Homo sapiens: one gene and its partners. The protein of the gene in region 1 purifies or fractionates together with the protein of each later gene. This does not show direct contact. Each region holds a gene or a part of one and is shown in the gene's direction. Other genes may lie near its edges.

Region 1 (3,500 bases):
TTGAACCTGGGAGGCGGAGGTTGCAGTGAGCCGAGATTGCGCCGCTGCGCTCTAGCCTGGGCGACAAGAGCAAAAACTCCTTCTCAAAAAAAAAAAAAAAAAGTCAGGCAAGGTCATTGCCCCTTGGAGCTATGCTGTAGGTGAGGAGACAGATAATAGACAGGGAAACATAAAGATCATTTCAACTTGGTGAATGCTATGGAGAAAACAAAACAGATGGGATAGGAGAAGGAAAGGTGCCTCCAGAGAGGGGACATTCCAGCTGAGACTTGAGTGGCAAGATAGGAACCAGCATGGACTGCTACCTGGGAAAAGATTATTCCAAGGAGAGCGAGCAGCAAGTCCAAAGGCCCTGGGGCAGGAACATACTTGGCATTTTCAAGGAAGAGAAAGCAAGCCAGTGTGGCAGAGCCTAGTGAGAGAGGAGAAGGCAGTGGGGAGGAACTGGGGACACGGTGGGACTTCTAGGGTGAGGTGTTCGTACTCAGTTTGGTAAAGTGCCATATCAGCAACTGTCAGGGGGATTCCAAATCAGGGACCAGTTAATCCTGAGAGGATAATCAGGGTGGCGTAGACGTGGTGGCATTTGAGTTGGGCCATGAAAGGTAGGTCAGGGCTGATTACGAAGTGAGCTAATTCTAAGAAACAGTGAGTGACGATTAAATTCCAGAAGAGATCCTGTGTAGGAAGGGCCGAGGCGACCATCTCTGTCTGCCTGTTTGTCCGTGCACCCCTGTGTCACTGCATTCCTGTTTGCTAACTGGGCTTTTGTCCCTCCCTGTAGCGTTGGGCCGGAGCACTAGCCTCACGGAGAAGGATCTGAAAGAAGCCAAGGCGCGGAGCCAGCAGATTGCAGCCCAGCTGACCACCCCTCCCAGCTCCAATTCCCGTGGCGTCCAGCTCTTCAACAGGCGCCGGCAGAGGGTGAACGAGTTCACCTTGGAGAGCCACGGCCAGAGGGGACAGAAGCCCAGCCAGGAGTCCCTCAGAGTGCTCCCTTCAAGCCTCCCAGGCCATGCACCGGGGCTCAGCCTGAGTTCCACCTCGCTGCCGGAGCCAGGCCCTCCACGGCACCCCAGTCCCCAGAGCCCCGACAGAGGGGTCCCTGGCCACAGCATGGAGGGGTACTCAGAGGAGGCTAGCTTGCTGCGGCACCTGGAGAAGGTGGCCAGTGAGGAGGAAGAGGTACCACTGGTGGTTTATCTAAAGGAGAATGCAGCACTGCTGACAGCCAATGGGCTGCACCTGTCCCAAAACCGAGAGGCCCAGCAGTCCTCACCGGCCCCACCTCCAGCTGAGGTCCACAGCCCAGCTGCAGATGTCAACCAAAACCTTGCCTCGCCCAGTGCCACGCTCACCACACCAACTTCTAACAGCAGCCACAATCCGCCAGCCACCGATGTCAATCAGAACCCACCGGCAACTGTTGTCCCACAGAGCCTGCCACTTTCTAGCATCCAACAGAATTCCTCAGAGGCCCAACTCCCATCTAATGGCACAGGGCCTGCTTCCAAACCCAGCACCCTGTGTGCTGATGGGCAACCCCAGGCACCGGCTGAGGAGGTGAGATGCAGCACACTCCTAATTGACAAGGTATCAACTCCAGCTACCACCACCAGCACCTTCTCCAGAGAAGCTACGCTCATCCCCAGCTCCAGGCCCCCAGCCTCAGATTTCATGTCCAGCTCCCTGCTCATTGACATCCAGCCCAACACCCTAGTGGTGTCAGCAGATCAAGAGATGTCTGGGCGAGCAGCTGCCACCACGCCCACCAAGGTCTACAGTGAGGTCCACTTCACACTGGCCAAGCCCCCATCAGTGGTCAACAGGACGGCCAGGCCTTTTGGGATCCAGGCGCCAGGGGGCACCAGCCAGATGGAGAGGAGCCCCATGCTAGAGAGACGACATTTTGGGGAGAAGGCCCCGGCTCCCCAGCCCCCCAGTTTGCCAGACAGGAGCCCCCGGCCACAGAGACACATAATGTCCCGCAGCCCCATGGTGGAAAGGAGGATGATGGGGCAGCGAAGCCCGGCCTCAGAGAGACGCCCCTTGGGGAACTTCACTGCACCCCCCACCTACACTGAGACCTTGTCCACAGCCCCTCTGGCTTCCTGGGTGAGGTCTCCTCCCTCATATTCTGTCCTGTATCCCAGCTCCGACCCCAAGTCTTCTCATCTGAAGGGCCAGGCGGTTCCTGCCAGCAAGACGGGCATTCTGGAGGAGTCGATGGCCCGCCGGGGCAGCCGCAAATCCATGTTTACTTTCGTGGAGAAGCCCAAGGTGACCCCGAATCCAGACTTGCTGGATCTGGTACAGACAGCGGATGAGAAGCGGCGGCAGAGGGACCAGGGGGAGGTAGGCGTGGAGGAGGAGCCCTTCGCACTGGGGGCCGAGGCCTCCAACTTCCAGCAGGAGCCAGCACCTCGTGACAGGGCCAGCCCCGCGGCGGCGGAGGAGGTGGTACCAGAGTGGGCCTCCTGCCTCAAGTCACCCCGCATCCAGGCCAAGCCGAAGCCCAAACCCAACCAGAACCTCTCCGAGGCCTCTGGGAAGGGAGCTGAGCTCTACGCCCGCCGCCAGTCACGGATGGAGAAATATGTCATCGAGTCTTCAAGCCACACGCCAGAGCTGGCCCGCTGCCCATCACCTACCATGTCCCTGCCTTCCTCCTGGAAATACCCCACTAACGCCCCCGGGGCCTTCCGAGTGGCATCCCGAAGCCCAGCCCGGACCCCGCCTGCCTCCCTCTACCATGGCTACCTGCCTGAGAACGGGGTCCTGCGCCCAGAGCCCACCAAGCAGCCGCCATACCAGCTGCGCCCCTCGCTCTTTGTCCTCTCACCTATCAAGGAGCCTGCCAAGGTCTCACCAAGAGCTGCCTCGCCCGCCAAGCCCAGCTCCTTGGACCTGGTGCCCAACCTGCCCAAGGGGGCTCTCCCTCCATCTCCTGCCCTGCCTCGGCCCTCGCGCTCCTCACCGGGCCTCTACACCTCCCCCGGCCAGGACAGCCTGCAGCCCACTGCCGTGAGCCCTCCTTACGGCGGTGACATCTCCCCCGTGTCTCCCTCCAGGGCGTGGTCTCCCCGAGCCAAGCAGGCCCCCAGGCCCTCCTTCTCTACCCGGAACGCCGGGATCGAGGCTCAGGTGTGGAAGCCTTCCTTCTGCTTCAAGTAACGAACCCCACGGGGGTCCCACTGCCGGTCAAGTTCCCCTCCTTGAGGGCCAGATGGAGAGCAGATGTGGCAGGAAATGGCACAGAGCTGAGTGAGGAGAATGGGGAGTCCATGGTTCAAGGTCAGATGCGGCCACCAGCTGGCTTTGTGACCTTGGGCGAGTCGCCTCCCCTCTCTGAGCTGAAGCCGCCCCTCCCCTACTACAACAGGGGTCGGACTCCATGTCTGAGCGGGGAGGAGGGTCATGGAGAGAGAACTGTCTGGCAGCCCTGATGCGGTAGAGGGGCATCCTCTGGCCTTTGTGAGCTGTAGGGATGCAGAGTCTGA
Region 2 (3,500 bases), on another chromosome or scaffold:
TCCCAGGAGCTAGGGTAGAGCTCAGAAATGCTGGGAGGACGGCACTCTTTCGAGGGCCATTTCGAGATGAGGAAATTGCTCCAAGAAAACATCTCTGTTTGGCCAGGCGCGGTGGCTCTCGCCTGTAATCCCAGCACTTTGGGAGGCCGAGGAGGGCGGATCATCTGAGATTGGGAGTTCGAGACCAGCCTGACCAACATGGAGAAACCCCTTCTCTACTAAAAATACAAAATTAGCCAGGCATGGTGGCGCATGCCTGTAATCCTAGCTACTCAGGAGGCTGAGGCAGGAGAATCACTTGAACCCAGGAGGCGGAGGTTGCAGTGAGCTGAGATCCCTCCACTGCACTCCAGCCTGGGCAACAAGAGCGAAACTCCGTCTCAAAAAGAAAGAAAACATCTCTGGCAGGGGACATCTAGCCACTGCATTCACACTTTTGATGACAAGCCCCCTTGAGAGCCCATGATGTCTTCAGGGGTTCCCAGTGGCCAGGAGACTCTTCATGCTGCGCTAAATCAGCCTGTTAGTGCTTCCCAGGCTTGAGCTCTAGGCTCACACTCAGTAAGCATGGATCCTTCCTTCAACCACTAGAACCCATCAGCCCCTGCCTGAATCCCCTTTTCAGGCTAAGTAGCACGTTCTAGCAATCTCCAAGGTCTATCACATCCTAGACAGGCCTCTGAAAGTTCAACTGGCCAATGGCTCTTTTCCAGATCCTCCCCCAGTTAAGCCCAGGTGTCTAGATGAGACCCAACAGGGCAGAGTGTGGCCAGCCCCTGCCTTCATCTTTCCCAGCACCCCCACTCCCTGGCTCCTCCCCCTGCTTCTTTGGCTGTGAGACAGGCAGGAGGTGAGAGTGGCAGCCAGGACTGAGGCAGGCTGCGGCTCCTTGGAGTCCCCCGCTCTGCCTGACTCTGACCCGGGGCTCCGCAGGTCCAGCAGGTGCAGGACGACGGCCACCGGCTCCAGAAGGCCTACGCTGGAGACAAGGCTGAGGAGATCGGCCGCCACATGCAGGCCGTGGCCGAGGCCTGGGCCCAGCTTCAGGGAAGCTCTGCCGCCCGCCGGCAGCTGCTGCTGGACACCACAGACAAGTTCCGCTTCTTCAAGGCTGTCCGGGAACTGATGCTCTGGATGGATGAGGTCAACCTGCAGATGGATGCCCAGGAGCGTCCCCGGTGAGAATCCCAGGGCTCAGGGCCTCCACGGGTTGTGTGGCTGGGCTGTGATGGGGCTGTGGGCAGCAGGTGATGCTGTTTCTGCCTCCCCCCAGGGATGTGTCCTCCGCGGATCTAGTCATCAAGAACCAGCAAGGCATCAAGGCAGAGATAGAGGCCCGGGCAGACCGCTTCTCCTCCTGCATCGACATGGGGAAGGAGCTGCTGGCCAGGAGCCACTATGCGGCCGAGGAGGTGGGTGAGGCCTGGGTGGCCGGGCCATTCTCACTGTGCAGTGCTGAACGCTGACTTCTTGGTGGCTTTCTGCTTCCTCTCATTCTCTCTTTGCAAGAAACCTTTCATTCTCTCCCCTCAGTGCCATTCACGGGTTTCTCGCATTCTGGAAATCTCTCCCCAGAACCGTCTGCCTCTTGACATCAGAAATCACTGGTCCTGGGCCAGGCATGGTGGCTCACGCCTGTAATCCCAGCACTTTGGGAGGCCCAGGCGGGCAGATCACCTGAGGTCACGAGTTCGAGACCAGCCTGGCCTCCATGGGTTGTGTGGCTGGGCTGTGATGAAACATGGTGAAACCCCGTTTCCACTAAAAACACAAAAATTAGCCGGGCGTGGTGGCGGGCACCTGTAATCCCAGCTACTCGGAGGCTGAGGCAGGAGAATTGCTTGAACCTGGGAGGTGGAGGTTGCAGTGAGCTGAGATTGCGCCACTGCATTCCAGCCTTGGTGATAAGAGCGAAACTCCGTCTCAAAAAAAAGAAAGAAAGAAAGAAATCACCTGTCCCCCTGGATGACTCCCCAGGGGCCGTGGAAAGATCTCACATCCTGGTGCTAACTCATATCTCTGCCCCCCGCCCCCAGATCTCAGAGAAGCTGTCTCAGCTGCAGGCACGGCGCCAGGAGACAGCTGAGAAGTGGCAGGAGAAGATGGACTGGCTTCAGCTGGGTGAGCTGCCAAGGGGGCCCCAGGCCCTGTGGGGAGTGGGGGGCATCCTGCACCCTGTGGGTTCCAGAGTAGGTGAGACTAGGAACCCTGGGTGTGAAACTCACGATGCCCAATCTTCGTGCTGCCTGGCACAGCTCTGGGGCAGTGGCTTTCTCTGTGTCCCTGTTCTTGAGGTTGCCATGGCCACTGTGCCCTGCCAGTGGCCACTCTGACCCACCATCTTCCTGCAACCCCCGATCCTGCCAGTTTTGGAGGTGCTTGTGTTTGGAAGAGATGCAGGGATGGCAGAGGCCTGGCTCTGCAGCCAGGAGCCACTGGTGCGCAGCGCTGAGCTGGGTTGCACGGTCGACGAAGTTGAGAGCCTCATCAAGCGGCACGAGGCCTTCCAGAAGTCAGCAGTGGCCTGGGAGGAGCGATTCTGTGCGCTGGAGAAGCTTACTGCGGTGAGGGACACAGGACCCCGGATGCCCACTCCAACCTGCTCCCCTGACCTGTGCTGGCTTCTGCTTGGAGAAGACATGTCTTCTCTCTTCCCACTGCACCAGTGGCCCCCAGATGTGAGCTGAGAGTGCCATTGTCACCACACCTTTAGGAGGTGTCAGTTCCCCTGGGTGATGCCGAGACACCTTCTCCCGCTTTGTTTCTTGTCCCCACCATCTTCTCAAATTCTGTTCTCCTCTTATCATATTTCATCAAATTAGAGTTGAGACATTTCAGCTCTCCCTGTTTCCCTGGCCCTCTTACACGCAACCTTCTACACGCTGAATGCAGCATTTTTTGACAGCTAGAGGAGCGGGAGAAGGAGCGAAAGAGAAAGAGGGAGGAGGAGGAGCGGCGGAAACAGCCGCCTGCTCCCGAACCCACAGCCAGTGTGCCTCCAGGGGACCTGGTGGGCGGCCAGACAGCTTCTGACACCACCTGGGACGGGTGAGAGCCAGGATGCCTGGGTAGGAGGAGGCGGCTGAGCCCAGGCCACCCAGGGACTAATGATTCTGTGTTGCCTTTGGTCATCCCAGAACCCAGCCACGGCCACCACCATCCACACAAGCACCCAGTGTTAATGGAGTCTGCACAGATGGAGAGCCCTCACAGGTGACCCCACTGTCCCTCTGTGCCCCCATCGGAGTCGTAGCCCCTCCACCCCCGCACATCCTTTTACAGATTCTTGTCCTTGCAGCCCCTGCTGGGACAACAGAGACTTGAGCACAGCAGCTTCCCCGAAGGGCCGGTGAGTTCCCCTGCAAGTGTGGTGTTGATAACTGTGAGGCGAAGGGTCCAGAGGGGGTGGTGAGTGCGGGTGGGGGAGTACTGGGGATGGGATGGGAGAGGGCAGAGGCTCACAGGCAGCTTGGGGGCAGGAAGACCAACTCCTGGACACG
Region 3 (3,500 bases), on another chromosome or scaffold:
GTATCTGCGATGGAGGATGGTGATGGGCTGTGAAGAGTGTTTTGACCCTGCTCTGGGGCCTCATAACCTTGGCTTATTTATTTCTGAAATGACATCATCTATCGATGACTCCTGCTGAGCCCGGTCGTAATGGCCTTTTCCAGTCAATGTTTTGACTTTTCAGTCTTACTAATGGACCAGCCAGGCTGCCAACATTTCTAAAGAGGCCAGTTTACTTTTCCCTTAAAGCCAGAACACCAGATAAATCAATTATTGGGCTGCTAGGAGCCATTATCAGTTTAAAACCACAGGCCTGTTTCTATGGAAAAGCATGAACCAGATAGCACAATTCCGGGCCATTTCCTCTCTTTTGTTTTGTTTTGTAAAATCTTCCTTTGGCTAATCATGATAGAACCTAATTCTCTTTGCTCTTAATGAGAGAATGAGCTCATTGGAGTCAACTTAGGACACGGTCTGGGAGGTTTTCTTTCGTGTTAGGTGTTGCTGGGTTTTTGTCTGATCTGAAAAACTAAACAAACTCAAGCATGCCTTTTGTTTCTCCTTCTCTTATGTCCTTTTGGTTTTCTTTCAGAGAAAAAAATGATTTGTGAAAGGGTTGGACATTACCATCTGTGAGGAGGAAAGAGGGAGGGAGAGGGAGACAAGGGCTTGCGTCCGTCCACGCATGTCCATCCCTGTCTCAGTTCATGTTCTCAGGGGCCCCAGCCTCAGGCCCCACTCACTCTGGGGCTTCAAGGGTGGTGACCCCAGGGCCGTTTCTAGCGATGATTCTGGAGGGTGATGAGTTGTGACCACTGCGTTGTTGCTCTCCATGCCCAAAGGAATGAAGGAAAGCAGAACTGCCTCTGGGCATCCTTCAGCCTCCTTCATAGACTCATCGCTGCTGCCCATCGCTTTGCTGTTGGTGCCTTGGTGCCACTCCTACCCCTATTCTCTTTCCACCGCACACTCTCACAGTCTCATTCACTCCCACGACTCCAGTCACCTCCCAACTCCCTAATTCTTGCATCAAGCTGGACTGTGCTCCTCATCTATAGACATCTCTGCCTCCTGATTCCTTTCTCTTCACCACCCCATTCATTTGCCCACCAAGTCCTGTCAATGCTACCTTCCTTAATTTCTCTTACATCCATTTCTATCGCCACATCCAGTACCCCAGTAAGGACTTCCTCTCTCCCCTAAGCTGCTCTCAGAGCCTCTTAAAGGTATTTCTGCCTCAAGTCATTCCTTCTTCCATGCTGCTCTTAAAAGATCTTCACCTGCGTCAATTGTCTCCCTTCAGGGACTCCCCATTTCCTAAGGGATAAAGACCAGATTCATTAGCCTCTAAGACCGGGCCTCAAGCTACTTCTCCAAAATCATCTCTAGGCACTCCTCCAAATTCTCTTTACCTTCTGGCCATGGCAAAAGCATGCTGTGCCTTCATGCCTCCCTGCCTTTCCCCTGCTGTTCTTTCGGCCTTCAGTGCTGTTCTCCCTCTTCTCAGTCTGTGAACTTGTAATCACCCTTAAAAGCAAAGTTCTTCATTGATTTACCTGTACCCCCACAGCCCCCTGTGCCAACTCAGAGCACCAGCCAGAGTGTGTTCTAAATGGAACCACCCAATGATGTATCTCTGTCTCTGGCTAGACTAAAAGCTCCCTGAGGACGAGGTTTCTGACTCATTTATTTCTGCTTCCCCATGTGCAGCTCAGAGCTTAATGTGTGACATAGTACAGGCACTTCAGGTTTTAATAAATGGCTGACCACCGAATGAATGAATGAATGCATGAAATAAATGAATGAAGGCTCTGTGATAACCAGGACAGTCACACAACACCAACCAGCATTTACAGCATGTTCTCCTACCCGACCAAATCATCAGCTCTATGAGGGCAGAGACCACACCTATTCTGCTCCCCACTGCCAGCTCTCCAGCTCCTATCAGCCCCATCATGATACGTAGCTAGTGTGAATCCAAGAGCTCATTTGAAATTCACAGTAACCCCATGAGGGAGGAACAGCAAGTATTGTTACCTACCTTTTGTAATGGGACAGTGAACCCTAGTAGGAATTGTCCCAGGTCATCCAATTCCAGAAAACTGAAGTGCTCTCCAGGGTTTGACAAACTTGAGAAATGAGTCTTCTTGTTTTATATCCGTGCTTCTCTAACTTTAATGTGCATTGAAATTACTTGGGATCTTTTCAGAAATGCAGATTCTGGTTCAGTAGGTATGAGATGGGGCTTGAGAGTCTGAGTTTCTAAAAAGCTCCTTGCTTCTAATAAGCTCTAATAAGTTGATTAGAAAATAAACTTAATAATTCCTAATAAGCTCTAATAAACATCTAGTCAGGTGGTGTTGACTAGTATCTACAAACCACCACATTTTGAACACCAAGGTGAGTGCTAGTTACCACAAAGCTTCCTCCTGGCCATTGCATTAAGATAGTGGATTTTTAAATCTACAAATGAATTCATTTGTGCCTTGGATCAAAATCAAGGGCTCTTTCTGGTCAGCAAACTTCTTGCAAGTTTGGATCTATGAGCACAAGATGGGTGCCTGGGCAGTGCTGGGATGGGAACCTGAGACACCTGAGACCCTGAGACATCAAAACCACTCAGAAGTGTGCAAAGTGAAGGTAAGAGAGAGGGAGACGTGAGGACAGACTTCCTCCATGCAAACCAAGAGAGATTTAAAAATTCAGAATGGATAGCAACATTGCACGCATTTGCTTATTATGGTTTTACATTGTATTCCACTTACAGCATTAAAAAGGCTTGAGATGGCTTAAAAAATAAACTACATGACCAATGCAACTAGTAAGAACAGAAATTCTAGAAAGACAGGCAGAAACCCTGAAGATTAAGATCACGAAACTCCTGGAGAATCTGATTAGAGCTTATGAATTCTTGCTCCACAAAAATGAATATATTCATATACACAACAATTTGCATATCATTTCAGTGGGTGTGTGATTCCCCTGAAGCCTATTCAAAAGTCCGGGTTAAGAGCACCCGATACAGAGAATAAAGAGAGAAAATTATGCCAGTGCCCTGGCTGAAGATGACAACTGTATTTGGACACTCAAATTGGCTCTGAGATGACTCATGGCAGCCAAGGGGAAAGGGGGGGACAAGATGAATGGGAGGACTCTTGGTGTCTGATAGTAGAAGGAAGAACATCAATCAGTCTTTCAGGAGAGGGAACTATTTTCTTAACCCCAATCCTCAGTATATTGTCAAGACAGGCCACTAGACAGAGGGCATAGTAGTTAAGGCGGACTCCGGATCAGTCTGCACAAGGCCAGGGAACCTAGGAGCAATGAAGGGCAGACTCAAATCCTTCATTAGTCCTTTGGGGGGCCTTAAATAGCAATTGACACATAATGAAACACAATCTATCTTCCTGATTCACACACACACACACACACACACACACACACACACACACACACACACAGACTCTGGAGACCACCTTGCTGGATTCAAATCCAAGGTCTACTAGTTACTGGCTCTGTAA
Region 4 (3,500 bases), on another chromosome or scaffold:
ATCTACAAATTCAATGCAATTCCCATTAAAGTACCACCATCATTCTTCACAGAACTAGAAAAAACAATCCTAAAATTCATGTGGACCCAAAAAAGAGCCCGTATAGCCAAAGCAAGACTAAGCAAAAAGAACAAACCTAGAGGCATTAGATTACCTGACTTCGAACTATACTGTAAGGCCATAATCACCAAAACATCATGGTACTGGTGTAAAAACAGGCATATAGACTAATGGAACAGAATAGAGAGCCCAGAAATAAAGCCAAATAACTTCCAGTCAACTAATCTTCGACAAAGAAACAAAAATGTGAAGTGGCGAAAGGACACCCTGTTCCACAAATGGTGCTGGGATAATTGACAAGCCACATGTAGAAGCATTAATCACTTTTGCAGTCTGAAAATACGGCCCTTTTCAGGAATTAAAATAATGTAATTTTCCCTGACTACGCTATTCCTGTAGTACACTGATGGCCATAGAGTAGGGTGCTTAATACTAGATTTCACAGGGCATGTAAGGTTCTAATAAGCGCTGCTACTACGTTTCTTTAAAAAATAATTTTTAGCATACTAAACTTATATGCATTATTACAAAAAAGTCTTTTAGTTTTTAGGCAGTTGTCTCTAATAAAATTGATTCGTAGTCTAGAGATCTTTTAGAGATGGTTAGTAAAACCTGAAGCACTATGCTGTTCCTCCCCCGTGGTGCTGAGCTTCTGCATCCTCTAGCTTGGGAAGGAAAAGGGAGTTGTTAGGCCTCTGCAGATACTTCCTTTTTTCCTATCCTGTCTCTCTTCCTTCCCTGGTTTCTTCTACAGCATACTTTCTCCTGGGGAAAGGAGTGCGTGCGTGCGTGTGTGTGTGTGTGTGTGTGTGTGTGTGTGTGTGTTTGTGTGTGTTTCATCAGGTCCTTCCATTAACTTCCATTCTTTTTCTTTTTTTTTTTTGTTGAGTCTTACTCTGTCGCCCAGGCTGGAGTGCAGTGGTGCAATCTCAATGCAACCTCTGCAACATCACTGCAACCTCTGCCTCCCAGGCTCAAACGATCCTCCCATCTCGGCCTCCTGAGTAGCTTGGACTACAGGCTAATGCCACCACCGTTGGCTAATTTTTTGTAGAGATGGGGTTTTGCCATATTGCCCAGGCTGGCCTTGAACTTCTGGGTTCAATGATTTGCCCACCTCAGCCTCCCAAAATGTTGAGATTATAGACTGAGATTATAGCCTCTAACTTCCATTCTTAAAAGTCGCTCATCTGTAACCAGGAAAAAACAATATAGAGAGACAGATGGCAGGAAAATCAGTAGCTGTGCAAAAATGGAATGTTCAAAACGCGGAAGAAAAAACTGAAACATTGTGAAGAGTCTTTTGGTTCCTTTTTTAGAGGACAATTTTTTACTTGGAATTTTTGAAAAATCTGTTTTCTCTACTTGAGATGGCTTCTCTTTCTGCTTTTCCCCCAGTGTATTAATGAACTATATCCTGCTACTTACCTCAAGTCAGTTTATCCAGTATAGAACTTGCCTTCACTCCTCACCCCCAAATCCACCTGTTGGGAACTTTTCTGTTTCAGTACCAGCATTCTCAACTTCATCTAGGCTGAAAACTGCAGTTGTTTTTAACTCCTCTGTTACTCTCATCTCTTACAACCAGTCAGTTGCGAAGTCCTATGACTCAGTCATTACTAGATTCCAGATTTTTGGACTTTAAGGACCAGAAAAATTTTTAAAAACTTGTTTTTGGTAGACTGACCTAGGATTTTAATATTTTATTTTTCTTAGTAAATACATTTTAAAAATCTCAGACTACTGTCTGTTATGATTACTATTTAGTTCTCTTTCCTCCCGAGACAGTCTCACTCTGTTGCCCAGACTGGAGTGTAGTGGCATGATCTTGGATCACTGCAACCTCTGCCTCCCAGGTTCGAGCAATTCTCATGCCTCAGCCTTCTGCGTAGCTGAGAGTACAGGTGTGCACCACCGTGCCCAGCTATTTTTTGTATTTTTAGTAGAGACGGGGTTTCACCATGTTGGCCAGGCTGGTCTCAAACTTCTGGCCTAAAGTGATCTACCCGCCTCGACCTCCCAAAGGCTGGGATTACAGGTGTGAGTCACCATGCCTCGCCATTGGTGAAACTGTTTTGATGTTCTGAATTGGATATGATATGATCCTCTATTTTTGAAACCTCATAGTACTTTTTATGCCACTTATAGTCTGCCTTATATATGGTTATTTATATACTTACCTGGTCCTAACCATATGGTCTTTTAGGGCAGGAGGACTAAGTATTTCTCATCTTTTTGTCTGTTGCAGGACTTAATAGAATGCTAAAGTGTTTTTGCCCATAAGGAATAGGAACACCACTCATACAAGTCACAAGTAAAAGAGAGGTATATTGAAAGGACAAAGTAGGCAACTTCATAGGTGTTAGACATTCAAGAATAGGTAAGAAATGAAATACAGGTAGGTTGTATGTACATGGACTGTGATACCCAACCCCCACCCTCTCCCCTATTTCTCCTAGAGCAGAATGGCCTCCCCCGAGTCTTCAACTTTTGTTTACTCTGACATCTTCTGTGGCTCACGCACCGCCTGACCCGGTAGTTCAAGTGCTTCATGTTATCTGATGCAGGCTCCCAGGATCCCATTCCCGGTTCCTGGTAAAGAGTATCAGATTGGCCCAGCCTTGTCATCTGCCAACCACAATCCAGTCATGTATGGTTGGGTATAGCAGAGTTGATGGGGTATCATGAGTTTTATAAGGTGACCCTTTCAAGGACTGGAGTAGGTCAAATTCTCTATTAAATGCATGGCCAGAGAGTTAATGTTTAATAAAGAGATGACAGTGCCTGACACCTAGTAGGCACTCACTAAATATAAGTTGAACATAATGGAATGACATGGGAGTATTGAGGAACTAAACATATCACTGCTTTACTTTCTCATTAGTTCATGAGAACGTGCCTGCTCATTCTCAATATTACCATCTTGTATAGTTGGGAGAGAGAACTTAAATTCAGATTTAAAATTAGGCCAGGCATGGTGGCTCATGCTTGTAATCCCAGCACTTTGGGAGGCTGAGGTGGGCAGATCACCTGAGGTCAGGAGTTCCAGACCAGCCTGGCCAACATGGTGAAGCCCCGTCTTTTCTGAAAATACAAAAATTAGCCAGGCGTGGTGGTGCACACCTGTAATCCCAGCTACTTGGGAGGCTGAGGCATGAGAATCGCTTGAACCTGGGAGGCGGACGTTGCAGTCAGCTGAGGTGGAATGACTGCACTCTAGCCTGGGCGACAGAGTGAGACTCTGTCTCAAAAAACAAAAACAAAAACAAAATTTAAAAATAAATTGAAGTAGGGTACAGGATTTTAAAGTCCCATTATCAACACATTCAACTCAGAATAGTTAATGTAACCTGAATTTAATTACCTTTGATTTTAATTTAGGAATGAATTTTTTAAAATGCATATAACCAGCTCAGGGTCTGTGCTTCATCATCACCCTG
Region 5 (3,500 bases), on another chromosome or scaffold:
ACAGCTAGGGAATCTTTCAAACAAAGCAGCTATGTTATTTTCTCCAATGCACATGTTGAAAATAAACTAAAAATTAGATATTTATCATGCCTTAGAGAGAAGATAACAGACTGCAAAACTGACGAGTAGTTTTTGTCTGACTCACTTTTCAGTTTCCTGTCCTGAGAATGTATAGTTGACAGAGCTAAAAATTTGAATCAGCCATAGTGTGTCCCGCAGGTTCTGACCCCATGACCATTGCATAATTTGGTGCTTGGAAGAGCCATGGTAATTCTGAGATACTCAAGATTTAGTCATCTGCTTCCTTAAGAAGTTAAAGCTACAGCCCGTGGTCCTCTGGATTTTGTTGTGCTTCTAGTGGACATGAGAAACATGGAGGTCAAAACCCAAAACTCATTTTCATGTTTCTGTGTTGAGACAGTTTTTCCAGAGGCTTGGATCTACAAATCAGTTTTTTAAGTGAAGGATGTTGGCAGCACATTGTAACTGAATACCTTGCCTTGAAACATCATGGATCTGCAAACAGCTGTGTTGAGTAATGAAAGTTGAGCTTCTGGCCCCAGGCATATTATGTAGATTACAAACCCAAATAACATTTTAAAACGTATATAAATAATGTATTCAAAAGTAACCTCAGGGAAATCAAAGTCATGGCTGCAGTTACACTAAGTAATTGGTGTGGGAAACATCTGTGATTTGTGTTTGTCCCTCTTTGCAGAAATGGAAGACAGCTATGAAACAGACACCAGCTCCCTCACCAGCTCCATCCATGGTGCATCCAACCACTGCCCACAGGATGCCATGATCCCTCACGGCGACACAGATGCAATCCCAGTAACATTCATAGGGGAAGTTTCAGATGATCCTGTGGATTCGGGGTTGTTTTCCAATAGAAACAACAATGCTGGGTCTTTCGACTCGGAGGGTGTTGCCAGCAGGAGAGACTCCCTGGCGCCACTTCAAGCTGAGCACAGCCAGCCCCATGAAAAGGCAAGGGAGGAAGTACCTGCCCTGCACCCCGCTTCCCATGACGTCGGAAAAGGAATCCGTGTGGCCTTATCTAACATCTCTAAAGATGGGAATCTAATGGAAACGGCGCCCAGGGTGACTTCTTTTGCTTCGAATCTTCACACAGACAACCTAAATGCAAAAGTGAAAGACAAAGTGTATGGCTGTGCTGACGGGGAGAGGACTCAAGCCACAGAGAGAGTGAATTCCCAACCGGTGAATGAAAAGGACAGCAACGATAAAAACGCTGCCTTGGCACCAACATCATGGCACCAACGAGGCCAAAACCCAGGGAAAAGCTACAGACTTAAGCACGGCCTCACAACGTATAAAATCATTCCTCCAAAGTCAGAGATGCGATGTTACGACAGAGATGTGTCCCTCTCCACCGGAGCCATTAAGATTGACGAGCTGGGGAACTTGGTGAGTCCTCACGCCACCGGCATCAGGATCATTTCCCTGTCTTCGTCTGTGCCTGAAGCAGAATCTCAGCCCATTGGGAAAGTCAGAGAGTTCTGGAGGTGCAACTCTGTGGAAAAACACCTGGGCCGACCCTCAGAGAGCTCTGCCAGGGGACCCCCCTCCACCCCTGTGCCCACGCAGACGCAGAATCCAGAGAGCAGACTCCAAGCAGACCCCAAGCCAATATCGCCCCAGCAGAAGTCTGCCCACCATGAGGGCCGGAACCCCCTAGGGGAGGGGAGAAACCAGCCCCCCACCATGGGCATGGGTCACGTGAGGGTGCCAGCAGCTCACACCACAGAAGTCACATTTCTCAAGCCTCAGAGAAGAACGTCCAGCCAGTATGTGGCCTCTGCCATTGCCAAGCGCATAGGAGCCCCAAAAGTCCATGCTGATGTGGTGAGGCCACACGGTTATGCCGAGAAGGGTTATGCAGGCAAGGCGCCAGTGCTGGCTGCACCACCTGTCACTGTGAAAGATGACAGGACATCCAGCCCACACTCAGAGACACAAGGATGGAAGGATGGTGCCCAGTGGCCCTGTGTCACTCCTCCCAACAACCACGGGGAAGATTTGGCAGTGGGAGCCCCTCCTAGGGGGGAGGTCATTGGCCCACACAGGAAGTTGTCTACTCAGGACAGACCTGCTGCTATCCACAGAAGCTCCTGTTTCTCACTGGTTCAGTCTTCCCAGAGGGATCGTGTTTCTGTGGGACAGAGCTGTGGTTTCAGTGGAAAGCAAAGCACAAGTAGCCAGGAGGCCAGCTCAGCATCTGAGCCCAGACGCGCACCTGATGGTACAGACCCACCCCCTCCACACACATCTGACACTCAGGCCTGCAGCAGGGAGCTGGTCAATGGCTCTGTGCGCGCCCCAGGCCACGGCGAGCCTTCCCACCCTCCAGGAGGGTCTGGCACAGAAAGCCACATTCTCCTAGAAAGAGAGGAAAAGCCCAGTGTGTTCTCTACAGATGGAAATGAAACAGACAGTATTTGGCCACCCAGCATTTTTGGGCCGAAGAAAAAATTCAAACCTGTTGTCCAGAGACCAGTCCCAAAAGACACATCCCTGCACTCTGCCCTGATGGAAGCCATCCACTCTGCGGGAGGGAAGGACAGACTACGCAAGGTGAGGATGGCGGCTTCCGGGGCAGGCCTTCCACACCTGCCCACTTCAGTGCACTGGTCTCAGAGTCTCAGAATAAAGCGGAGGAGAGAGAGAGACGGGATTAGGATAACAGTGAGGCTTACCACACAGGTTTCATTTTAACTAGAATTCCCATCATACTGCCTCCAGATATTTGTACTGAACTATTAAAGGGACAAAATGGATGGGTGTGAGGCTAGTCCACACTGACTTCAGGCCCCTGGCTGCCCTGTGGGAAAGGTAACAGCCAGTGATGTCCATCCACAGGGCCAGAGGAATGGAGAGGCCAGGGGCAGGCCCATCCATATGGTTATCCTTGAACAATGGAACAGAGGAGAAAATTCAGGCAGGGCCACTTCTTTCCCATATGCATTTGTAGCAGCAGCGAACTGTCATTCTTCAGTAACACAGGAGTAATTGTAGGACACGCCTTGCCCATTGTCTAGGCACTTAACACACCACAAGTATTATCTCATTTGCATGCTACACCAATGCTAATAATGAGATATTTCTTCCATTTTGCAGATGAAACTGAGGCACAGTGAGGCCAAGGGGCCTCGTCCAAGGTCAGGCACTAGTTAGTGGGGGCCATGGATTCTCTTCTGGGTCTGCAAGATGTAAACACACACATCGGCTCTGGAACACTGGGATGAATAGCAGGAGTGGTCTGCCATTAAGAGGCAGTTTGAAACTACGTAGCCTTTGATTCTTATGTGTGCCTTCTCATAGACAGGGTGTAAAACTGACCCTATAGGCCTCGGCTGACATGAGTGGATTTTCTTTCTTTTTTTTTCCTGAGACGGAGACTCACTCTGTGGCCCAGGCTGGAGTACAGTGGCACAATCTTGGCTCACTGCAACCTCTGCCTCCCGGGTTCAAACAAT
Region 6 (3,500 bases), about 27 Mb from region 1:
CTTTCAATTTCAGGTCCTCTAAGGAAGGGAATATGCGAGAGACTTTGGGATTTAGCACTGTGAAATGCTTTCTCTTGGCTTAAGGAGCTGTTGCTTTCTCTCCCCTGTTACGAATTGTGTTCCATATCTGAGTTCCCTTTTTGCCTGGCCTGCAGGGGAGCTCCCGTGTATCTGAAAATGCTTTAGGCACAGCAGTGGCTTTGACCCATGTGGTTAGTGCGTTGATCTCTCTCCTCCCTCTGGGCCTTACTTGTTTCAGTGTTCACATGGTTGGTAGTTTATTAAAGCCTTTGTGGAGGGCTGGGCTCAGTGGCTCATGCCTGTAATCCCAGCACTTTGGGAGGCCAAGGCAGGCGGATCATGAGGTCAGGAGATCGAGACCATCCTGGCTAACATGGTGAAACCCCGTCTCTACTAAAAAATACAAGAAATTAGCCGAGCGTGGTGGCGGGCGCCTGTAGTCCCAGCTACTCGGGAGGCTGAGGCAGGAGAATGGCGTGAACCCGGGAGGCGGAGCTTGCAGTGAGCCGAGATCTCGCCACTGCACTCCAGCCTGAGTGAAAGACTCTGTCTCAGATTAAAAAAAAAAAAGCCTTTGTGGTAGTTGCCTCTGGTCCTTTCTTTGAACAAGGCAGAGGAACCAACTGAGATTACAGCAGGCAGTGGGCAGAGCAGCAAAGGCTGGTGGGACACAGGCTCATGGGAAGGTGAAGAGCCTAGGCTGACTGGAACCCCGTGGGCTGAGGAGTGGGGGAGATTTGATTGGGAAAGGAGAGCAAGGGCAGAGGAGGAGTTTAGACTTCATTCTGGGGGTCACAAAGTTATCACTGAGGTGATAGCCCTCCTGAGGTGGGATACTACGAAGGGCCCTTCTCCCAGTGCTCCTGACATAAGCTAAAATTTTAGATTATAGGCTCAAAAACAGAGCAGCCCTGGGACTTCACCACCTTAGCAGCCCCTCCTGCCCAAGCTGCCACCTGAGCAGCAGGGGACACCGACTAAGAAGCCTTTGGTGTGTGAGTGCAGTTGAGCAAACATGCGCCCGCCTTGTGCTGGCCACCCACCCGGAGACCCCGGTCCTCATCCTGCGTTGCTCACAGCGGAGGGGGGAGGTGCCTCCGGAAACAGGAACTTAGGATGTGGTGTCATCGTGGTGGAAGCCAGGAGCACCCTGTGGGGACCCAGAGGAGGAAATGACCTGAACAAGCCTCTTGTTCAGAGGTCCTTCCCCAGGAAGCAGTGGCCACGCTGCAGCTGGAAACCAGAGGGCCTGGCCCCCGGGTGGGGAGCAGGCATTTGGGAGGGAGGCCAGTCTCCCATGCTGAGGCTTGGAGGTGGGAACGGGTGTGCCTGTTCTGGGAACTGACTGCGTCGTGCTGAGGACTTGATGTCTACATCTCACAGTATGTGGGAGCCTTGGGGTGGGGGCCGGCAGGGGGTGGTGTTGGAGAGGTGACGGCTAGGTCAGGCAGGGGTGGGGGACGTAGGCCAAGTGCGGGCGCTGCCCACCCAAAACAACGTGTGCAGTGGGCAGGTGAAGCCAGTAGGCGATGGTGGGGCCGGGGGTGAGCGGGTGGCACACGCCTGTCTTAAGGGGGCTGCGGCGAGGCCCCGGTGATGGCTGCTCCGGGCTTGCAGGTGATGTCGCCAGGGCTCTGTCACCTCAAGAGAAACTGGGACCCTCATCTCAGTATGAAAGTTCCTGGTTTTTAAGTGGTGGTAACTAATGAACATGGTTTAAAAATATCATACCAGCAAAACAAAAGCCATCTGTGGGTCATATTTAGCCAGTGCTTGCTGTGGCTCATGGGAACCCCTGAGGGATTTTAAGCTCAGGAAAATCATGGTCTGATCCGCATTTTGGAAAGGTCCTTTCAGGGCCTATGGAGAGCAAATAAGGCAGGTAGCAGTGAGGAAGGCTGGACCATGATGCCACGGTCCAGGCAGCAACATTGGGAGCATGGTGGCCCCGGCACTAGGGTAGGAGGTCCAAGAAGTTATCTGCAAAACAAGGAGCACTTCTGGAGGGCCCTAGGCACCTGCTTAGATATGGGGATGAGCAAGTGAGTGAGTGAGCCTGGTGCCCAGAGGCCTGGCAGGTCAGAGATGAGGTGGCTGAGGGCCCTGAGGGAAGAGAGGGGCTGTGTGACAGGGTTTGACGGGGCAGAGGTACCACCTCTGAAACCCTTCCTGCCAGATTGCGAAAGAAGCATGGGGGCTGTAAGAAGGCCAGAAGGGGCCGGGCGCGGTGGCTCACGCCTGTAATCCCAGCACTTTGGGAGGCCGAGGCGGGCGGATCACGAGGTCAGGAGATCGAGACCATCCCGGCTAAAACGGTGAAACCCTGTCTCTACTAAAAATACAAAAAATTAGCCGGGCGTAGTGGCGGGCGCCTGTAGTCCCAGCTACTTGGGAGGCTGAGGCAGGAGAATGGCGTGAACCCGGGAGGCGGAGCTTGCAGTGAGCCGAGATCCCGCCACTGCACTCCAGCCTGGGCGACAGAGCGAGACTCCGTCTCAAAAAAAAAAAAAAAAAAAAAAGAAGGCCAGAAGGCCGGGCACTGGTGGCTCATGACTGTAATCCATCCCAACACTTTGGGAGGCCAAGGCAGGAGGATCCCTTCAGCCCAGAAGTTTGAGACCAGCCTGGGCAACATAGGGAGACCCCATCTCTACCAAAAAATTAAAATTAGCCGGGCATGGTGGTGCACACCTGTAGTCCCAGCTACTCGGGAGGCTGAGGTGGGAGGATTGCTTGAGCCCAGGAGGCAGAGGCTGCAGTGAGCCGTGATTGTACCACTGCTCCCCAGCCTGGGTGGTAGGGCGAGAACCTGTCTTAAAAACAAAATCAATAAATAAAATACAGTAAAAAAGAAGGCCAAAAGCCCCTGTGGGGGGTAGGTGCACCAGACACTGTCCCTTTGGTTTCTAGGGTGACCATCGGGATGAGGAGGAAGAGACCCACATGAAGAAGTCAGAGTCGGAGGTGGAGGTGAGAGCTGGGGGCACCAGCCAGGTGAGGCAGACAGGGCTATCTCAGCTTGCCTGGCCCAGCCCCAACCTTTTCCTCGTGCCCTCAGGAGGCAGCAGCTATTATTGCCCAGCGGCCTGACAACCCAAGGGAGTTCTTCAAGCAGCAGGAAAGAGTCGCATCGGCCTCTGCGGGCAGCTGTGATGTACCCTCGCCCTTCAACCATCGACCAGGTAGTCCTAGGCCCCACCCCCCGTCCGGCCCCACTCCTCAGGTTGCGGCCCTGAGCCTCTCTGGGACTCTCTCAGAAGGGAGGCCTTGCCCAAGCAACCCTTGGAGAAGGCGAGACCCTTCATCCAGCGTGCATCCGCCCACCACTTCCCAGGTGGCAGGACCCCAAGAAGGGCCAGGGATGGTGGTGAAGTCGCTTGTGGCTGAACAGTGGGGAGTGCTAGGGCCTGTGGGGCAGCTCTGGCATGGGCTGAGGCACAGCGCTGGCCACGGGGAGCAGCTCGGCTGGGGTGAATTAG
Region 7 (3,500 bases), on another chromosome or scaffold:
CTCTCTCCTGGTTGTTAAAGTCACCACATGTAAAATCTCTCACAATTGAAAGCAAATTTCAGGGACACAGTGCACATCCCTTTCTCTGGGGACCTGGTCACTCATTCATTCATCCAGAGACAGGCACAGACAGGCTGTGACACAGGAGCTGGCAATGCGGTCTCCACGTGGCCGGAACTGAGCGGCTATCTGGAATAAAGGGAGGGATTGCAGCGGCTGGAGCCATGTGGAAGGTGCCAAGTCCTGATGGAAGGGTTGGAACTGAGACTGCACAGGCAAGAAGCCTGGCTTCTGATGTGCTCTGGATCTTTAGGCAGAATCACTTCATCCCTCCAGGGCTCTGCTTCATTCAGCTGTAAATGAAGTGGTAAGACCAGCTGATCTCTGAGAACTATTCCAGCTCTAATTAATTCTAAGCCCCCATTTACTCAACAGAAAGACTGTGGTACTTTCATAGTGTTTGTGTCTCTCATAAAATATTTATCTCTTCCTACTCTGCAGGGTAATTTCAGTGTCTGTGCTAGACTGTGTCTGTGCTAGACTGTGTCCATGCTAGGACTATCATTTGGGAATTGTAGACTAAAACCATCATAACGTATTAGCTAAATGACCTGGGGCGGGGCTTTTGGCTACTTTCTTTCTTTCTTTTTTGTAGAGACAGGGTCTCACTTTGTTGCCCAGACTGGTCTCAAACTCGGGCTCAAGCAATCCACCCACCTTCGGCCTCCCAAAGTGCTGGGATTACAGGCAAGAGCCATCACACCCAGCCAAGCTTTGAACTCAGTTTCTTCATCTGCGAATAGAAATATTAATGCCTTTCCTGCCTGTATCCCATAGGGTAATTGTGAGGATCAGTGTTCACAATGGGTGTGAACAAGTTCTTGTAAAATATGAAAGGGTGCTCTGCATAAGGGATTATTATTATGCTAAATTGCTTGGAGACCTAGGCTCCTTGTGTTACTCATCGAGGACCCGGCAGAGTGCTTGGCTCTTGGAAAGTACAAGAAATGTTTGCTCGGTGAATAAATAAATGAAAGTGTGAACAAAAGGTAGAAGCCCAAGATGGGCAAGATACAAAGGGATTCAATCTGCAAATGTGTTGTTCTATAAGCACCACCCTCCATCCTACTTCCACACTGAAGTGTTCAGGAGTTTACCTGTGAAGGACGAAAAAGCAGAGACTGTCATGTCATTCTGCTGTTCAGGCCCAACGAGTTACCTGCGGAGGTGGCAGTGAAGAGGGTTTGGTGGCCCTGACCCAGTTTTTGTTCTCTCAGCCCTGTGATGCTGCTGAAAACTCCACTCAGCTTCTCAGCCTAATAGCTGCAGCCCTTTGTTGGTTTCTAAGCCTCTTTGCACAAACCAATAACAAATCCACAAATGCCTGGAGGGGAAAAGATGTCAGGCTGACTTCAATGAGTCTTCTCTTCTCTGGGATCTTGGCCCTTGGTATCCCTCCAAAGCCTCCAGAAAGATGTTTTGGTCTTTCTCTAACAGCTCTGTTTGTTCTCCGTGGGAGGTTGAATCTGTCATAAACTAGTCCATCGTAAGCAGAAGTCGAAGCCCATGGGCATGTTTTTAACAGCCCTCAGTTGGCAACAAGCAAGTTTGAGAGTCCCTGAGCCAGGCCAATATTCTCATGGAGCAGAGGGGAGCCTGAGCCCCAGCCACGCGCTTTGCTAATATGACAGCTGGGTCTCAAACACTGGGTGCCTGATGTCCACGCCAATGTGCCTCCCACGGCACCAGGCCAGTCCCTCCAGAGGCACCCCTTTGTTTTATTTTCTTCTGTCCTTGTAAGCTGGCCAGTTGCCTTTGACCATAAGATGTACCATGGGCTCCTCCTGGGCCATGCACTGCCCCTCCCATGGGTGGGCAGTGCTGATGCCCGAGACACTGGGCACTCTGCTCACCCCACCCCCTCCTCCCTATCCAAGCTCAGACCACAGAGCCAGCCACTCCATGGTCCCAGACGTGAGGTCAGCTGTGGCTGGACCCTAATGAGCCTGGAAAGCCTGATTACAGCCTGTGGCTTCCTGAGTAATCATGGCCGCCCCCCTCCACCGGACTCCAGGGTGTGCCGGTCCCTCTCCTTCCCACGCACCTCGGCCACTGTTGCCCATCTTCCTTGGTGGCCTGAAGTGCCTTCCCTCAGCTCAGAGCAGCCACTAGCCCTTCTCTAGCCCTTCTCTCCTCTGCCCCTCACCCCTGCCTTGTTATTGGCAGGGTCAGTGGCACCCCGGCCTGGAGGGGCCTTGGTCAGCCTTTGTCCACATTCCTTGCCCCCACACTAACTACTAAACTACAGTTGTTGACTTCCTCCCTAGCCAGACCAGGTCACGCCTGCTGTCAGTCCTCTGCCCGCATGACTCATGCCTGGCCTGGAGGGCAGGTGGTGCCCTGCTCACCTAAGGAAGGCAGCCTTCTGAGTCCCCTTCTCACTCAGTGGGGACCCCAAAGCACTCTTTAGAAAAAGGCTCTGGGGTCTTCCTCCTCCAGGCAGCACCTAGGATTGCAGCCTCTCCTTCCTCCAGGCAGTGCCTAGGATTGCAGCCTCTCCCTCCTCCAGGCAGTGCTGGGAGTGGCACAGGAGCCAAGGTAGCGGCATGGGGGAAGGAGATTGGGTCTTAGAGCCTCTCGGGTCTGGATTGGAATCCTGACGCCAGCACTGTTATCTTGAGCACGTGGCCACCCGCTGCACCTGCATTGTCATCTGTAAAATGGAGCAACAGCCTCCTGCCTGGGACATAGCAGACACTCGACGAAGTTGGCAAATGTCACTGCTCTCATGTCCCTCCCTTCTCCACCCTGTGGGAGATTCAAGAAGGCATGGAGCAGGCAGAGAGTGAGCAGGGCTGACTATGGCACGCCAGCACCGAGCAGCTCCATCCGCCAGCCGTGACACGGGCAGCGAGGGAGGCTTCTGTCGGCACCACAGGCACCTGTCAGTAGCCCACGCGGAGACCCACAAGATGTAGACAGGCCCCCGATAACATCGTCCACTCTATCTTCTCCCGGCCGCTGCCTGGGACACCTCCCACTCCCATCTGGGTTCTCAGAGATGGGGTGAGAAGCGGCAGCTGTGGCTTAGGGGTGGATATAGAGAGGGAGGGAACCCTTCTCCCTGCATCCTCCCTCCACTCACGCTAGGCTGCAGCTCCTGGGCAATGAAGGGAATGATATGACTGAGGCTTCTGCATAAACATCCACCAGGAGCATGTGGGCGCTTGGGCCTCCACACCTAGGGAAAGACTCCCCAGAGCTTTCCGGGAAAGAGGAGCTGGAAGGGGCTGGTCGGGAGGAGGGAGAGTTTTTTCTCCTTTGCTGCTGGCACAGAATCCCTTAGAAATCACAGATAGCCGGGCGCGGTGGCTCACGCCTGTAATCCCAGCACTTTGGGAGGCCGAGGCGGGTGGATCATGAGGTCAGGAGATCGAGACCATCCTGGCTAACAAGGTGAAACCCCGTCTCTACTAAAAATACAAAAAATTAGCCGGGCG

The links.
Region 2: the proteins of SYNPO (region 1) and SPTBN2 purify together in Homo sapiens (affinity purification with mass spectrometry; one large-scale study listed by BioGRID and IntAct). This does not show direct contact.
Region 3: the proteins of SYNPO (region 1) and TMOD1 purify together in Homo sapiens (affinity purification with mass spectrometry; one large-scale study listed by BioGRID and IntAct). This does not show direct contact.
Region 4: the proteins of SYNPO (region 1) and GNAI3 purify together in Homo sapiens (affinity purification with mass spectrometry; one large-scale study listed by BioGRID and IntAct). This does not show direct contact.
Region 5: the proteins of SYNPO (region 1) and COBL purify together in Homo sapiens (affinity purification with mass spectrometry; one large-scale study listed by BioGRID and IntAct). This does not show direct contact.
Region 6: the proteins of SYNPO (region 1) and DBN1 purify together in Homo sapiens (affinity purification with mass spectrometry; one large-scale study listed by BioGRID and IntAct). This does not show direct contact.
Region 7: the proteins of SYNPO (region 1) and SCARA3 purify together in Homo sapiens (co-immunoprecipitation; one large-scale study listed by IntAct). This does not show direct contact.

Annotation. Positions count from the first base shown.
Region 1 is NC_000005.10:150,647,160-150,650,659, forward strand, and holds part of SYNPO (synaptopodin), read left to right. Parts: intron 1-784; coding exon of another isoform or gene 785-1,116; coding exon 1,117-3,144; coding exon of another isoform or gene 3,145-3,174; exon of another isoform or gene 3,175-3,500. UniProt on the Homo sapiens protein: Actin-associated protein that may play a role in modulating actin-based shape and motility of dendritic spines and renal podocyte foot processes.
Region 2 is NC_000011.10:66,687,717-66,691,216, reverse strand, and holds part of SPTBN2 (spectrin beta chain, non-erythrocytic 2), read left to right. Parts: intron 1-933; coding exon 934-1,178; intron 1,179-1,273; coding exon 1,274-1,412; intron 1,413-2,036; coding exon 2,037-2,121; intron 2,122-2,367; coding exon 2,368-2,564; intron 2,565-2,905; coding exon 2,906-3,048; intron 3,049-3,137; coding exon 3,138-3,213; intron 3,214-3,298; coding exon 3,299-3,349; intron 3,350-3,500. UniProt on the Homo sapiens protein: Probably plays an important role in neuronal membrane skeleton.
Region 3 is NC_000009.12:97,504,666-97,508,165, forward strand, and holds part of TMOD1 (tropomodulin-1), read left to right. Parts: intron 1-3,500. UniProt on the Homo sapiens protein: Blocks the elongation and depolymerization of the actin filaments at the pointed end. The Tmod/TM complex contributes to the formation of the short actin protofilament, which in turn defines the geometry of the membrane skeleton.
Region 4 is NC_000001.11:109,555,115-109,558,614, forward strand, and holds part of GNAI3 (guanine nucleotide-binding protein G(i) subunit alpha-3), read left to right. Parts: intron 1-3,500. UniProt on the Homo sapiens protein: Heterotrimeric guanine nucleotide-binding proteins (G proteins) function as transducers downstream of G protein-coupled receptors (GPCRs) in numerous signaling cascades.
Region 5 is NC_000007.14:51,026,810-51,030,309, reverse strand, and holds part of COBL (protein cordon-bleu), read left to right. Parts: intron 1-718; coding exon 719-2,598; intron 2,599-3,500.
Region 6 is NC_000005.10:177,460,135-177,463,634, reverse strand, and holds part of DBN1 (drebrin), read left to right. Parts: intron 1-1,208; exon of another isoform or gene 1,209-1,403; intron 1,404-2,931; coding exon 2,932-2,991; intron 2,992-3,079; coding exon 3,080-3,203; intron 3,204-3,500. UniProt on the Homo sapiens protein: Actin cytoskeleton-organizing protein that plays a role in the formation of cell projections. Required for actin polymerization at immunological synapses (IS) and for the recruitment of the chemokine receptor CXCR4 to IS.
Region 7 is NC_000008.11:27,664,902-27,668,401, forward strand, and holds part of SCARA3 (scavenger receptor class A member 3), read left to right. Parts: intron 1-3,500. UniProt on the Homo sapiens protein: Seems to protect cells by scavenging oxidative molecules or harmful products of oxidation.